Homo sapiens: one gene and its partner. The protein of the gene in region 1 purifies or fractionates together with the protein of each later gene. This does not show direct contact. Each region holds a gene or a part of one and is shown in the gene's direction. Other genes may lie near its edges.

Region 1 (7,719 bases):
GTAGAGATGGGGTTTCACCATGTTGGCCAGGCTCCTCTAGAACTCCTGACCTCAGGTGATCCACCCACCCTGGCCTCCCAAAGTGCTGGGATTACAGGTGTGAGCCATCGCACCCAGCCTTGTGTCTCTTCATTTAAGGGCATTAATCTTACCATGAAGGCCCCACCCTCATGATCTCATCACCCCCAAAAGGCTCTATCTCCAAATATCATCACACTGGGGGTTAGGCCTTCAATACATGAATTTTGGCTGGGGCCAGGGGGTAGGTGATACAAGTCATAGCATCTTGCAAATAGAAAAATACACATTTATTTAAAAGCTTTGCTGAATTCACAGTCAGATATTGGTATGTAATTTCTCAATCTATTACATGGGGTTGGATATAGTTTTTGATGCTGAAAAGTAAAAGTGGGGAAATCTTGGTCTGTGACCAAGCACACAAATGAATTGCGGCTTACAGTTCTGGTAACGGAAGTCTAAATTATCCACCATCCAAAGAATAACTGCAGGATAAAATTTGTTTGAAGTTTCCAGATAATTTACATGCAATAAATTGCACAGAGCTTAAAAGTGTACAGTCCAGTGAGTTTTGATTAAGGCATGCCCTTCCGAACACATTGCTTATCAAAATATAGAACATCTTAATCAACCAGAAAAGTTCCCTATGACCCTTCTAGCCAATCCCTTCACCTCTACCAGGCAACAAGTGTTCTGATTTTATTTTACTGAAGATTATGTTTGCCTGTTCTTTAACTTCCTATAAATAACATCCTATGGTATGTACATGTAGAAGGCAGTTTCTATAATGGATCTCAATGATCCCCACCCGCTATGTTCACTCCCTTGTGTGATCTTTTCCCTTTGAATATGGAGTGGATCTAGGAACTTGCTTCTAATGCACAGAATGCAGCTAAAGTGATGGAATGGCCCTTCCGAGATCAGATTACAAGAGTGTGGCTTCTGCCTTCTCTCTCTGTCTGATTCTTCTCACTGGCTAGATCTGATGAAGCAAGCTGCTCTTGGGAGCTGCCCTGTGAGGAGGCCCACACAGCAAGGAACAAAGGAGGAGCAACCGGATCCTGCAACAAACAAGTGACTGGGCTGCTGTTTCCCCAGGTGAGCCTGGAGATGACGGCCACCTGGCTGGACTTTATTGCCACCTGTGAAAGACCTTGAGCTAGAGGATCCAGTTGATCCATGCCTGGATTCCTGACCCACAGAAATCATGAGATAATACATGGCATTGTTTAGGCAACTAAGTTTTGGGTTAATTTGTTATACAGAATAGATAACTAATGCAGTACTTTTCTGTGACTTCTTTTGCTTGACAAAATATGATTTATCCATGTTTTTGTGGGCAGAAGAGATATTCTCAAAGAGCTTATTAAAAGCATTAAACCTATTAAGATAGTCAAAAATTTCAGTATAAGAGAAAGCAGCAATACAGAGAGGTAAATTGAGCACTGAAGCCACATAAGCCCTGCATTTGCTGGACGGGGTGATGGGGAGCTTCAGTGGTGATGGTATGGGACAGAAATGAAGGTCAGGAAGAGTCTAATAGATGAACATTCCATAAGGCCGGGGTCCCAAAAGGTTTCTACATCCTCAGGGTAACCGTGGTCCAGAAGAAACATGCTCCCGGACTACAAGGAAATGCACCTTGGCACTGAGCAGAGGAGGTGGTGGTGGGTGGAGATGGCCAGAGAACCGTCCTATGGGTTTATCAACACAGGCCAGGGTGGGGTGTCATGGCAGACCAAATTCACTTCACCTGCATGGTTTAGAAAACTATGAATTTAGCCATGAATTTAATTTTCCAAATTGGAAGTTCCTCTAGGTATCTGGTAGAAGCAAAACCACCTCCTCTATGGAGGAATACAGCTTCATCAGAAAACCTCACAGAGAAATTTCCAAGCAAAATGGGATGTGCACAGGTGAAAATTATCAAGCACACAAGGAAACAGGGCACCATGAGTGAGACCTACCAGAGAGAGGAGACAGCAACAGAAAGGCTGATGTAGGTACTGGAATTGTTAAAGCCAGATCATAAGACAATTATGCTGAGGTAAAGAAAGTCAAAATTAAAAATATCTGCATGGAGCAGAGAACCATAAGAAGAAAAGCCTCAGTTTTGCAAAAAAGAAAAGGAACTTTTAGAAATGAAGTTAAGGTCATTAAAATAAAAACCACAATGGGCTGACTTAACAATGATCAGACACACCTGAAGAGATAATCAATGACCATGAAGGACAGAGTGAGCAGGTCGAATTTCTGACTAATCAGAGTCCTGAAACCATCTCTAAATACAGAGAAGGGAAAGACCAAAAACCACATAGAAAAACGGGCAGGAGAGAGAAAATTCACAAAGAAAACAGTGAAAATAGCTCTTAGGCTTAAGAAAATCTCTCCAACCTGGCTGATAAGATAATTTAAACTTAAAACAACATTGGATGCTACTTCTTACCTACTGGGTGGCAAAAGTCCCAAAGCTTGACAACATGCTTTACTGCTAAGGCAGTGGGAAAACGAACATGCTCACGTGTTGTTGGCGTGAATGCAAAATGAAGGCAAATCTGACAATATCTAGCATAAAGACGTATGAATCTATGTTCTGGCCAGCAATTCTGCTTCTAGGGTGAGCGCAAGGCTGTTGATTGCAGCACAGAGTGAGCTGAGAGTGAGCACAGGCAGAAATGAGAGAAGGCCAAGGACTGATCCTGTGGCCTCTGCAGGGATGACTTCAGTATCCTGGCTGCCCTTGCTTCAGTTGTCACACCCACCCTCCATCCCACCCCCAGAAGGACATCTTCCCTCAGCATCCAGTGGCCTTTTAAAAGCATAATTCAGAGTATAGAACTCTGTTTCCTAAATCTGTGCAATGGCTTCTGGTTGCTCTGAAAGTCCACACTCACCCGTAGGGCATGGCTCCTCCCTCCTGCTCTGGCCTTTTCCTCCCTTACTCTCTGTGGCCAGTCCCTCTGCTGTGTTGTCCTAGTGTTTTTTTTTTTTTTGAGATGGAGTCTTGCTCTGTCGCCCAGACTGGAGTGCAGTGGCACAATCTCAGCTCACTGCAACTTCCACCTCCCAGGTTCAAGCGATTCTCCTGCCTCAGCCTCCGAAGTAGTTAAGATTACAGGCATGCTCCACCACACCCAGCTAATTATTGTATTTTTAGTAGGTCTCAATCTCCTGACCTTGTGATCCGCCTGCCTCGGCCTCCCAAAGTGCTGGGATTACAGGCGTGAGCCACCATGCCTGTCCTGTCCTAGTTCTTATTCCTCAAATACGTGGATTTTTCTCACTTCAGGCATTGTACTAGCCGTTCCATTAGCCTGGAGGGGGAAACTCATCTTTGCGGAGCTGGCTCCTTTTCATTCAAATTTCAACTAAAAATGCCACCTCTTCATGGAATTCCTTCCTGAACACCCTCTCTGAAGCATTCCCTGAGTAGCTACTCAAACACATCATTCAATAGTGCTTTTTCATAGCACTGATGTTATCTTTTTTTTTTTTTTGAGACAGAATCTCACTCTGTCACCCAGGCTGGAGTGCAATGGCGTGATCTTGGCTCACTGCAACCTCCGCCTCCCAAGTTCAAGTGATTCTCCTGCCTCAGCCTCCCAAGTAGCTGGGATTACAGGTGCCCACCACCAGGCCTGGCTAATTTTTGTATTTTAAGTAGAGATGAGGTTTCACCATGTTGGCCAGGCTGGTCTTGAACTCTTGACTTCATGTGACCCGCCTGCCTTGGCTTCCCAAAATGTTGGGATTATGGGCGTGAGCCACTGCCCCATCTGATGTTATCTTATTTATCTGCTCATCATCTGTCCCTGCTACCAGAATCTAAGCTCCAAACCAGAGAGACCCTCTGTGGTCACTATTAACTTCCTAATGCCTTCAAGAGGGGACTCCACCTGGTAGGCAGTCAATACATAGTGCTAAATGTATGAATAATTGCCTTGGATTCTGCATCCTTTTTAACTTTCCCAAATTCAGGGAGAGAACTGTGGGCTGCCATTTTATATTTGTCCAGGCTTTGTTTTTTTCCCTTCATGTCCACCTTTTACTTTTTCACCAGCTCCTCCACAGTAACAAAAGCCTTATTCAAAGGCCTGTGAGTCAGAGGATTATGTAAAGAAGTTACTTTAATCTAGATGCCCCTGACTTGATGGAACACGTCCAGTGACTCCTGGAAGAAGATCTGGAGGTCTCCAGAGCAGCGTGGTCCCAGGAGGCATACACAGAGAGCCACGGCCAGGGCTGAAACAGTCTGTTGAGTGCAGCCATGGGGGACGTCCTGGAACAGTTCTTCATCCTCACAGGGCTGCTGGTGTGCCTGGCCTGCCTGGCGAAGTGCGTGAGATTCTCCAGATGTGTTTTACTGAACTACTGGAAAGTTTTGCCAAAGTCTTTCTTGCGGTCAATGGGACAGTGGGCAGGTAAGGGAGTGTTCCATCTCATGTTTTTTTGCTGCTGTTGTTCCTGCTTGTTACTATTATTATTATTTTTGAGACAGACACTTGCTCTGTCACCCAGGCTGGAGTGCAATGGCGCGATCTTGGCTCACTGCAACCTCCGCTTCCCGGGTTTAAGCAATTCTCCTGCCTCAGCCTCCCAAGTAGCTGGGATTATAGGCGCCTGTCACCACACCTGGCTAATGGTGTTTTTTTTTTTTTTTTGAGACAGAGTCTCACTCTGTTGCCCGGGCTGGAGTGCAGTAGTGCGATCTCTGCTCACTGCAACCTCTGCCTCCTGGGTTCAAGCAATTCTCCTGCCTCGGCCTCCCAAGTAGCTGGGATTACAGGCACACACTACTACGGCTGGCTAATTTTTTGTATTTTAGTAGAGACAGGGTTCCCCCATGTTGGCCAGGCTGGTCTCGAACTCCTGACCTCATGATTTGCCCACTTTAGCCTCTCAAAGTGCTGAGATTACAGGCGTGAGCCACCGCACCCAGCCAACGTTTTGTATTTTTAGTAGAGACAGGGTTTCACCCTGTTGGCTAGGCTGGTCTCAAACTCTTGACCTTGTGATTCACCCGACTCGGCCTCCCCAACGGCTGGGATGACAGGCGTGAGCCACCGCACCCAGCCCCTGCTTATTATTATTTATGTCTCAAAAGGGATATTGCATTTTTTTCTCTTTGAGAGCAAAGAAGTAATTCCTTTGGGTAATTTTAATTGGGGGGATTAGAAAAGTGTGAGTGAAATTAGAATGGTCTGCAACACAAGCTGTAGGGCATTAGGGGAACACTAGGGCAGAAGGCTACCCAGCCCTTGCTAAGCACTTATCCTCTCAACCCCATTAGATGAGTTTTCTTCTTTTGGGAGTTTCCTGCTAATACAAATAATAAATAATGCAGAAATTTCTGCATCCTCATCTCTAAATTTACAAAAAGCCCAGGGTGCTTTCACTTTACTAAAAGGTGTTTCCAAATTTTGAAATCTAAATAATTTTAACTCATTGTATTAAAAAAAGGATCCAAGTGTTTTTAAGAAATGAAGGTGTTACAAAATCAAGGCAACGCATAACTCTATGGAGCCATGTTTTCAGGATGGTATGGAATGGAATCTGGGTCTGGCTGGTGTCAATTAATGCTGCCTCCCCATGGGATTTATCTACTGGAACGCCCATGCAGAACTTCAGCCCTATGACTGAAGTTAAGGTGAAGAGCATGAGGCCATGGTTTCAGCATCTCCTTGAATATCTGAAATGCTAAAGTCTTTGCAGGGCCTTATATTTCAAATTTGGACACACACACACACACACACACACACACACAAAGAATCCAATGACAAAAATGATTAAGTGACTTTAGAGATATTATCTAGGCAAAATAGGAAAGATTCTAATATGCTTATAGGGCTGCCAGATAAAATACAGGATACCCAGTTAAATTTAAATTTCAGAAAAAAAGGAATACTTTTTTAGTATAACTCACATATGGCATGAGACATGCATTAAACAATTCATAATTTACCTTAATTTCAAATTTAAGTGGGCATTCTGTATCCTTATTTGCTAAACCTGGCAACCTTAAAAACTTAGCAATGGAAATTAAAAAAATTACCGTGTGAGAAATTGTTTGGGATGACAAATGGATTTTTGACTTCTGCGTCTTATATTTGCTGTGTGCGTGTGTGTGTGTGTGTGTGTGTGTGTGTGTGTGTGTGTGTGTGTCCTCTTGGGGTATTATGCTGTCAGGAGTGAACTTGCTTGAACTTGCTCAGCAGCTTGACCTGAGTGTTCTGGATTTAAATACCCCACTCCACACAGATTCAGATGCCCACGTGTGGGTGGACGTAGCACTCTGCACAGCTGCTGTCGTTTGTGTAGGGAAAGCCCTTCTAAAAACCTACATTCTAAAAGAAGTTCAAATGGGGACAGAGACTAAGAGCATTTGGTGACTCAAAGGAAAAACATGATCTTAACCTGTTTTTATGAGTCAAGATGGATAGAGTTACCTCTAGCAGGAGTAAAATATGTTTGGGCAGAGGCAGATATCAGGGAGATAATATATTTCAAGTAGGGGACAAAAAAGAAACGCAAGAACTAGAGGCTAAATTTTTAATTCCTCAGATAGAGTACCCTGAGCTCTGTGCTGGATTTCCTAATTCTTTTCTTAGTGTATATTCATAGACTCAGGGCCCCAAAGTCAGACAGCCTGGGTTCAAATCCTTGTGTCATCATTTTTAGCAGTGTGACCTTAATCAAGTTACGAACTTTTTCCCCTTGGCTTCCTCATTTATAAACTAAGGATAATGATGGTCCCTGCATTTTAGGTTTGTTTTGAACATTAAATGAGATGATGCATCTAAAACACTAGAAGCAGTACATGGCAAGAAGTGAGTGTGTGACCGTTATCCGTCGTTATTATTGATGGTATCATCTTGCCTGTAGTGTAGGCCCTGTATTGGGTGAATTGAAGATTCCCCACAGGGAGGGGAAGGTAAGGCCCAAGATGCCCTGAGCATAGTTCCTCCACCCAGAGCTGCAGACGGTGTGCATGGAGCCTCTTAGAAGTTCCTAAACGAACAGACACATCATTAGTAATTATTAAAGCCAGTGTGGTCCGTGAGGCTTGTACAGCTTGGCCTGCACTCACTCTCAGGTGAGCTAAATGTACCTTTTGTTCACACTTTTTGAAAGCATGCCCTTTAATTGTTGTTGCAAGGGTAAATTGTAAGTTTTACGATATACCGAATTGTAGTGAATTTTGAAATTGTGACGTTCTCACGAATGAAGCGTATACTAGAGCTCAATCATTAAATATGTCTGTAATGTTGATATGAAAGGACTAGCAGACCTATTTGACTGTTGTATATTAACAGATAGTTCTATTGAGTACAAATTCTTCAGGTTTCTTCATTTCACTGCATTTTCTTTTTGCATTTTGGTATTTTCCTCTTTGCTAAATTCCCTACCTTCCATAGGCCTTTAATTGCTGCTGTGGGGTGGGGGTGAGAAGTGGGCAGAGCTCCACTTTTAGAAGGAACCTTGAAATGTCCTTACAATGACAGATGGGTGCCTGGGCAGAGAGATAATGGGGAACACTGCCTGCCCTTGTGGGGTGAAGGCTCACAATATCTGCATCCTCATGGGGCCTGCAGGAAATGTTCCCTGGCTGCGGATCTGTTTCATTTTGGAACATGTTTTCCACAGTCTCGCCAATCCCTCCAAAACACCAACTAACCAACCAACCAACCAACCAACAAACCA
Region 2 (7,687 bases), on another chromosome or scaffold:
TGTATTGTGGAAAGTAACATAGCTTTGATGTCAAACAAGCCTTGGATTCCAATACTGGCTCTTTTACTTGTAAGGTGAATGACCTTGGGCAGGTTAACTTTTCTAAGCCTCAGTTTCCTAACTTAAAAATTACTTACTATGTACCTTACAGGGTTATGGGGAGGATAGAAGGAGACAAGTAGGTAAAATACAGTATGTGCTTGCACTGTATGGACTCCCTCTTCCCCACCTCAAGGGTACAATTTCTCTATTATCTGTCTTTGTTCTTCTGACCTGCTTCTTTTCTACAACTGATTGTGACAAGAGTAATGGTGATGGGGAATTGTTGAAGCAATTCTCTGCCTCAGCCTCCCGAGTAGCTGGGATTACAGGCATGTGCCACAACGCCCGGCTGATTTTTTTTGTATTTTTAGTAGAGATGGGGTTTCATCATATTGGCCAGGCTGGTCTCGAACTCCTGACCTCAGGTGATAAGCCCACCTTGGCCTCCCAAAGTGCTGAGATTACAGGCGTGAACCACTGTGCCTGGCCTTAAAAAGACTTTTAGGCAAGATGGTGTTATTTATTACTGACATTTTATTTAATTGGGAATATTTCTGATAATTGTGTTTGTGTGTGAATATCTATCTGAAAAAGAAAGCCTTTTCTGTTTTAGGTTAATACAAAAGCTGAACCAGCAAACAATATTACAAGTTTCCTGTGGCAACTGGCATTGCTTGGCTCTTGCGGCTGGTAAAGTAACATTAAACATATGCTAATGCTATGTTAATTTTGAAAACATTTCTCTTTGTCTTTTTGTGTGATATTATCTAACTGAAAACTTTGAATTAACTGGTTAGGGTCTATGCATTGCTGTTGGACAGTGACAATTCTCATATGGGCTTTGCATAGCTCATCCTTTTCTCAGGGTGTGGGTGATGAAGTAGGTGGTCATCATTGCTGCTCCAACTTTCACAGGGGAAGATAAGCAGGGGGCAGGACCATACCTAGGTGTTCTGAGCATGGAGGAGATTGATTTTTCTTAGCGACAGCCAACTCTCAAGCTACATTCCACTATCAAGCTCCCAAATGAATGAAAAAGAAGGAGTTGGAGAAACCTAAATAAATCTGCACTTCTGTGTCCTGCTTGATTATCTGCAGAGCAGACCAAGTGGTCATTGCTGGACCTCCCGAAGTCTTGGGTCTCATAGTCTTAGTGTGGTCAGAACTAGTGTGATCTTGCTTAAGCCTGGTAATTGGCCTGTCCGAAATTGAATTTACTTATACATTTAATATTTTCTGTGTATAAATTTTAATAGCCTTTGAAGGGCAGTAAGACTCAGCTTACCTCTCTGTTATATCACTTGGGAGTTTTGGTTTTGGCAGTCTGATAGCATGAAGTATCTCTGTTCCTTTGCTCTTGGGTGGGTTTGGTGTTGGGGGGCAACTGGCAAATGACCCTAATAACTAGATTATTTTTGTGTGTGGAGCTTGTATCATTTTATGGTAATACCAGTTATCCTGTTATTTCAGATGGCCAGTTCTTCACCTGGGGAAAGAACAGCCATGGGCAGCTTGGCTTAGGGAAGGAGTTCCCCTCCCAAGCCAGCCCACAGAGGGTGAGGTCCCTGGAGGGGATCCCACTGGCTCAGGTGGCTGCCGGAGGGGCTCACAGCTTTGCCCTGTCTCTCTCAGGAGCTGTTTTTGGCTGGGGGATGAATAATGCCGGGCAGCTAGGGCTCAGTGATGAAAAAGGTAGGTAAACCCTTCATATGTATGTATTTAGTTTAAAAGCACATTCATTTAACACATGCTTCTTGAGGATCTACTATGTGCTAGCCCCATGTGAGATACTAAGGGAGAAGCAGTGAACACAATAGAGAACATCCTCGTCTTAGTGGAGACTGTATTCTAGTGAGTAGAGGTGCAACAAAACCAGTAAATACACAGGATTTGAGAGTGCAGCTTCCTGCTTTACATAAGGTGGTGGGGAAGGGCCCCTCTGATAAGAAAATGTTTGAGCAGAACCTGTAGGAAATCAGGTGGGAGATGGGACATGTAAATGTCTGGGTGAAAAATGTTCCTGTCAGAGAGAACTGGGTGTGCAAAGGTGCTCATGTGGGAAGAGATGTAGTTGGAGAGAAGGGGAAGAGTAGCACAGCTGCAGGTCAGAGAAGTCGTGTAGACCCAGTTATGCAGGGCCCTGAGGGGCAGGGTGAGGATATAACTGGTTTTCTCAGTGAGAGGGGAAGACCCTGAGGGTTTGGAGGAGAAGCGTGATCCACTTTGGCTTTGGCTGTAGTGGGTCAAGGGGGAAGCTGGAAGACCAGCTTGGAGGTTGTGGGAGTAAAGTCAGATTTTAAACATATTTTGAAGATGAGGCCAGTTGGTTTTGTTCACTGTTGGATGTGTGGTTTGAAATAAAGGAACAGCTGGAAGGGCAAAATGACTGTTTCTGAAATGGGGAAAACCGTGTGTAGTAAAGTGAGCTGGAGAGTGGGCAGGGTTGGAGAGTGTAGGGAAACCATGAGGTAGGTTTTAGGTAAATTAAAACTGAGAAGTCTGTTGGATATCCAAGTACAGATGCAGGCAGGAAACTGAACATGCGTCAGGAATCCAGGAATCCAAAATTCATGCCAAGATAGTTGTGTATATTTCATCTCAAAGGCAAATGGTAGTGATATTCTGATATTTAATTTATTCTAGATCGAGAATCTCCATGCCATGTAAAACTCTTACGCACGCAAAAAGTTGTCTATATTAGTTGTGGAGAAGAACACACAGCAGTTCTCACAAAGGTAAGGAGCTCAGAGTATTTTACTTTGGTGCTGGGGATATGATGGGTGATTAGAATTGCTTGATTATGTTAGTGTAGTGATGGTGTGTGATTACAGTATTGTGGCTTGAACTTGAATGCTCTCTTTTATGTGGGTTTGTTGTTTTCCAAAGGAATAGAAAAAGACTACTTTTTTGTATGTCTCTGTTATCCTCTTTGGTAATCTTGTAGATTTTTCATATATATATATATATATATATATATATATATATATATACACACACACACATAATGTAGATTATATATATATACACACATATAATGTAGATTATATAAAAATGTAGATTATATATATAAATATAATGTATATATTTATATATATATAAATTCCTTGGTTCTTTATGGAACAAAGACAGCACTTTGTTATTTTTATTTGTTATTTTATGTATATATAATATATATAAAATGATGTCCTATGTTCCTTTAAAACAAGTCATTTAAATATGTAAAAAAGAAACAGCAATTTAATTAATGTTTTAAAATAATCATGTTTCTTTTGCTTCTAAATACATTCTAGAGAGAATGAAAATGTATTTTTATATTGAACAAATATTATTCTACGTTCACTTTGATAAAATGCCTTAACATTTATTTAAATACAGCTGTTAAAAAAACAGCTTACTTACCAAGGAATTTGTAGAGCACCTAATTTCTTACATGTGAATGATCATGTAAAATCATCTCATTTAGCCTAGCTCCTAGTTTCTCCTTTTTTAAAATTTTGCTTCCTAACACATCATTGTACTTTCAAACGATTTTAAAAATTTACAGAAGGCACACATTCCTTTGAGCATTGCTATCTTTGTTCCATAAAGATGCAGTCTGAAATTCCCTTTTTATTATTTTTCTATTTAATGAACATCCTTACAAAGTGATTTTGGCCAAGTGTCAAGTGAATGTAGTGCTCTTGTGCACATTGTTGTGATAGGCATTTTGTATACAGGGTTTAGAGGTATACCCTTAAAGATACAGTGAAGTCCTATGGTGTTTGTTCCTTGTTAGAGTGGAGGTGTGTTTACCTTTGGCGCTGGTTCCTGTGGGCAACTTGGACACGACTCCATGAATGATGAGGTTAACCCTAGAAGAGTTCTAGAGCTGATGGGTAGTGAAGTAACTCAAATTGCTTGTGGCAGGTGAGTGTTCCTCAAAGCTTGCTTGTATTCACTAGGACCCAGAAATTGGTCTTATCTTTGTAGTGATGAAGAATGTGATTATACCTAGTCACCGTCATTTTAAGAGATCTTAACTGCATGCACGCCTATGGTGAAATGTGGAGAAAGACCTTGATAGAGTGTGGCAAGGAAGGGTTTTAGATAAGCAGAGCAACACGGAGACATTAGGCTTCTTTTGGGATAAAGAGTAGCAGGATGTGGGGAAGGGATAAAGAAAGGAAAAGTGAGAGAGTCCCAAAGAACTTCTTGGAAATTTTTGCCTGAGTCTACCCTGCTTCTCTCTGTTCATCTTAGAGGCCACATGCAGTAGATCATTCAGCTCTTTCCTGACTTGCCACCCTCCTCATGATCTAGAGTGTTAGAGGATAGTATTATGGAGAGCAGCCGCTGCAAGAAGAGTCACGTGTTAACATGGGAAAGGCTCTATAGGAGCACCCTGTGCTGTGCACATGTGGAAGTTAAAAGTCAGAGTCAGAGTGTACATCCACATTAGTAGAAACTATGCTGATGAGTTAAATTATTTTTTCACAGACAACATACCCTAGCCTTCGTGCCTTCTTCTGGACTCATCTATGCATTTGGTTGTGGAGCAAGAGGTCAATTAGGAACTGGGCACACTTGTAATGTTAAGTGCCCATCTCCTGTCAAGGGTTACTGGGCTGCCCACAGTGGCCAGCTTTCAGCCCGAGCTGGTAAGAATGATTGTCTCTGGAATTTAAAGGTATTTTAAGTGATGAAAACAGTTGTTTACAGAATATGTATCTATTACTTACTTTGAGGTCTTTTGGAGGGAATGAAGATAAGGTATTTTTTAACATCAATTAATAATTTCTGTACTTACTATGCATGAAGCTGTAGAGTTGAGATCCTAGAGAATAAATAAAGCAGGAAATACTGTTGTGTTAGGCCGTTCTTGCATTGCTGTAAAGAGCACCTGAAACAGGGTGATTTATGAAGAAAAGAGTTTTAATTGGCTCACAGTTCTGCAGGCTCTACAGGGAGCATGATGCAGCCATCTGCTTGGCTTCTGGGGAGGCCTCAGGAATCTTACAGTCATGGCAGAAGGCAAAGAAGGAGCAGACACTTCACATGGCAGAAGCAGGAGCAAGAGGAAGAGTGGAGAGGAGGTGCCATACTTTTTACACCACCAGATCTCATGTGAACTCAGAGCAAGAGCTCACTTATCACCAAGGGGATGGCCCAAGCCATTCATGAGGGATCCGCCCTCATGATCTAAACACATACCACCATGCCTCACCTCCAACATTGGGATTACTGCAATTCAACATGAGTTTTGACCAGAACATACATTCAAACTATACCAGTTATTTTGTTTCCACAGACCTTGGTGGTGGTGTATACATTTTATTGTTGTTGCTAATAATGACAGTTCGCATGTATTGAATGCTTAATGACGTTTCATTACTATGCAAAGCACTCAAAATAATCTAAGAACTAGTTAGTGGTTATTATCCCCATGTTAGAGATAAGGGAACAAAGTCTTAAGGAGGTCAAGTAATTTGCCCAAGATCACATAGATTCTGGAGGCAGGATTTAAACCCAGGTCATTCTAAATCATGTGTACTATGTTACCTCTACTTTGCTGTTGGCATTTTGGTATATAACATGATGTGATTTCTTTTTAAGCCATTTTTTTTCTTCCCTTAAAAAATAGTTAAATAGCAGTCTTGGTTTCATTGGAAATCAAAGTCAGGCAGTCATTAATATTGAATGACTGCTTCACCTTGAAATAATAAATCTGAGGCTGAAATGGAGCTAGAGAATCATTAAAAGGAAGTGTAACTTATTAATTTTGATTTTGAAGTCGATAAAGTGACACACTTATGGCTTGATCAGGAATTTGTTTGAAACAGTAACCATCATAAGTTTTAGTACTGGATTATAAGAAACTCAAGGACACAGACAAACTCTTTTCCTTTTTGTAAACCTAGCATATAGCACAGGACCTGGCATGAACTTGTCACTCAGTAGACATTTTTGGAATGGATATATGAGCATCTGAAATGTAGTGCAACTTAAAATATAAATAAACAAGATTTTGTCTGGGTGATGTTCCCAGAAGCAAAAGAATGGCTTTGTGTCCTCTTCTCTGTAATTTGTAAATTCTTTTCTCCAAGACATTGTACTCATACGTGGAATACATTTATTTAGAAAGTTTACCAACTCAGGTGTTTTTTGGTTATTTCAAAACCACAAATTTTTGAAGTTGAATTATAACCTGACTTCCATGGTCCTAAATTTGTGCTTGGATGTTTGCCAAAATGATTTTATAACATAAGCAGGTAAATGTCAGTTATGTAAATGACATGGTTTTAGGAACCCTCTTGGTAATGTGGGAGCACAGAGGAAGGCATGGAGGAGTATTGTGGTTAGAGGAAGTTTGAGCTGTGCCTCGAAGGATGATTTGGAGTTAGCCAGGTGTAGAGGACTGTGAGGGAGTTGGTGTGAGCACCACCAAGGTGCAGTTCCAGAAGCACATTCAGGTTGTGCTCTCGGTGGGCACATTCATGGAGAATCCCATGTGCCAGGGGCAGCAGAGGGGGGAGGCACCGAGATGTGAAATAGTGTGGTGTATTAGAAATAAAGGCAACGTGGTAGTAGGAGAATGTCACCGTGGACACAGTGTGATGGGAGGTAAAGCAGGGAGCAGGAAACGGAGGTCCTTCCGTGGCAAGATTCGTCCTGACGGGGCCTGGGCCCACCACACTCACATGCTGAATTGTTACCATAAAGAATAGTGCCCATTTCAGATTTCAGGTCAGTGGCATGACAGAGTTAGAATGAAAAAGAGAAACTAGGTCAGGATTCACTGGCAGTTGGGGAGGGGCAGAAGAAGAGTTAGAGTGGAGGATACCATTTTATATATTTATTTTTAATTGAAGTAGAAACAGTCCTAGGCAGTGAGCCAGGGGAGAAGATTTCTTACTTCTGTGACACAATTAAAATGGATAGGTACCCACTCTGAAGTGTATTCTGCGACAGTAGAAAAGGGGATCAAGGAGAAACTTCAATTAATGAAAAATATGCTTTCGGAATTTTTTTTTTGACAGATCGCTTTAAATATCATATCGTTAAGCAGATCTTCTCTGGAGGAGACCAGACTTTTGTACTTTGCTCCAAATACGAGGTAAAATTTTTCTTGTGACTCTTATTTCCAGGAAGGAATAATAGTGAACCAACATTTCTTTTAACAAGTAATTACAACATAAAGAGCAATGTTACTCTTTGTTTCTACCAATCCTATGTTATTTTTAAAATAAGCAAACTAAATCTGGAAGAAGTTGTCTCCATTTGGCTCCCTTGAAGTGCCAACAATTCTCCTGGAATTATGGAGTTCTAATTTATAATTTGAAATTATTTATTTATATTTGTACTTGTTCCAGAAACTCTGTAAAGGATGCCTAGGGAGTTGGTGCTTACTTTGGCATTATTTGATTTTCCATTTCTTTTCTTCCCTGTTAAGTGGCAACAAATGCTAGGTGTTTGAGAACTTGGTGGGTTTCTTTGTTTGATGTGATTGAGTATATATATGTATGTAAGAGGTACCACAATTTTCAGATGTATTTTATTATTTGTAATCTGCTTATGACATGACACCAAAATTTCCCTTCCATTGTCTCCTGCATCACTATAGTGGATAAAGACACTGTGACATTGTCTTTCTGCCTGAAGGTAGAGT

What was found. The genes of interacting proteins can lie anywhere in the genome.
Region 2: the proteins of HSD17B3 (region 1) and HERC3 purify together in Homo sapiens (affinity purification with mass spectrometry; 2 studies listed by BioGRID and IntAct, with this or other methods). This does not show direct contact.

What each region holds. Positions count from the first base shown.
Region 1 is NC_000009.12:96,298,671-96,306,389, reverse strand, and holds the start of HSD17B3 (17-beta-hydroxysteroid dehydrogenase type 3), read left to right. Parts: upstream 1-4,213; 5' UTR 4,214-4,285; coding exon 4,286-4,439; intron 4,440-7,719. UniProt on the Homo sapiens protein: Catalyzes the conversion of 17-oxosteroids to 17beta-hydroxysteroids. Favors the reduction of androstenedione to testosterone. Testosterone is the key androgen driving male development and function. Uses NADPH while the two other EDH17B enzymes use NADH.
Region 2 is NC_000004.12:88,651,357-88,659,043, forward strand, and holds part of HERC3 (probable E3 ubiquitin-protein ligase HERC3), read left to right. Parts: intron 1-655; coding exon 656-732; intron 733-1,512; coding exon 1,513-1,734; intron 1,735-2,685; coding exon 2,686-2,777; intron 2,778-3,817; coding exon 3,818-3,948; intron 3,949-4,518; coding exon 4,519-4,679; coding exon of another isoform or gene 4,680-4,717; exon of another isoform or gene 4,718-6,078; intron 6,079-7,058; coding exon 7,059-7,135; intron 7,136-7,687. UniProt on the Homo sapiens protein: E3 ubiquitin-protein ligase which accepts ubiquitin from an E2 ubiquitin-conjugating enzyme in the form of a thioester and then directly transfers the ubiquitin to targeted substrates.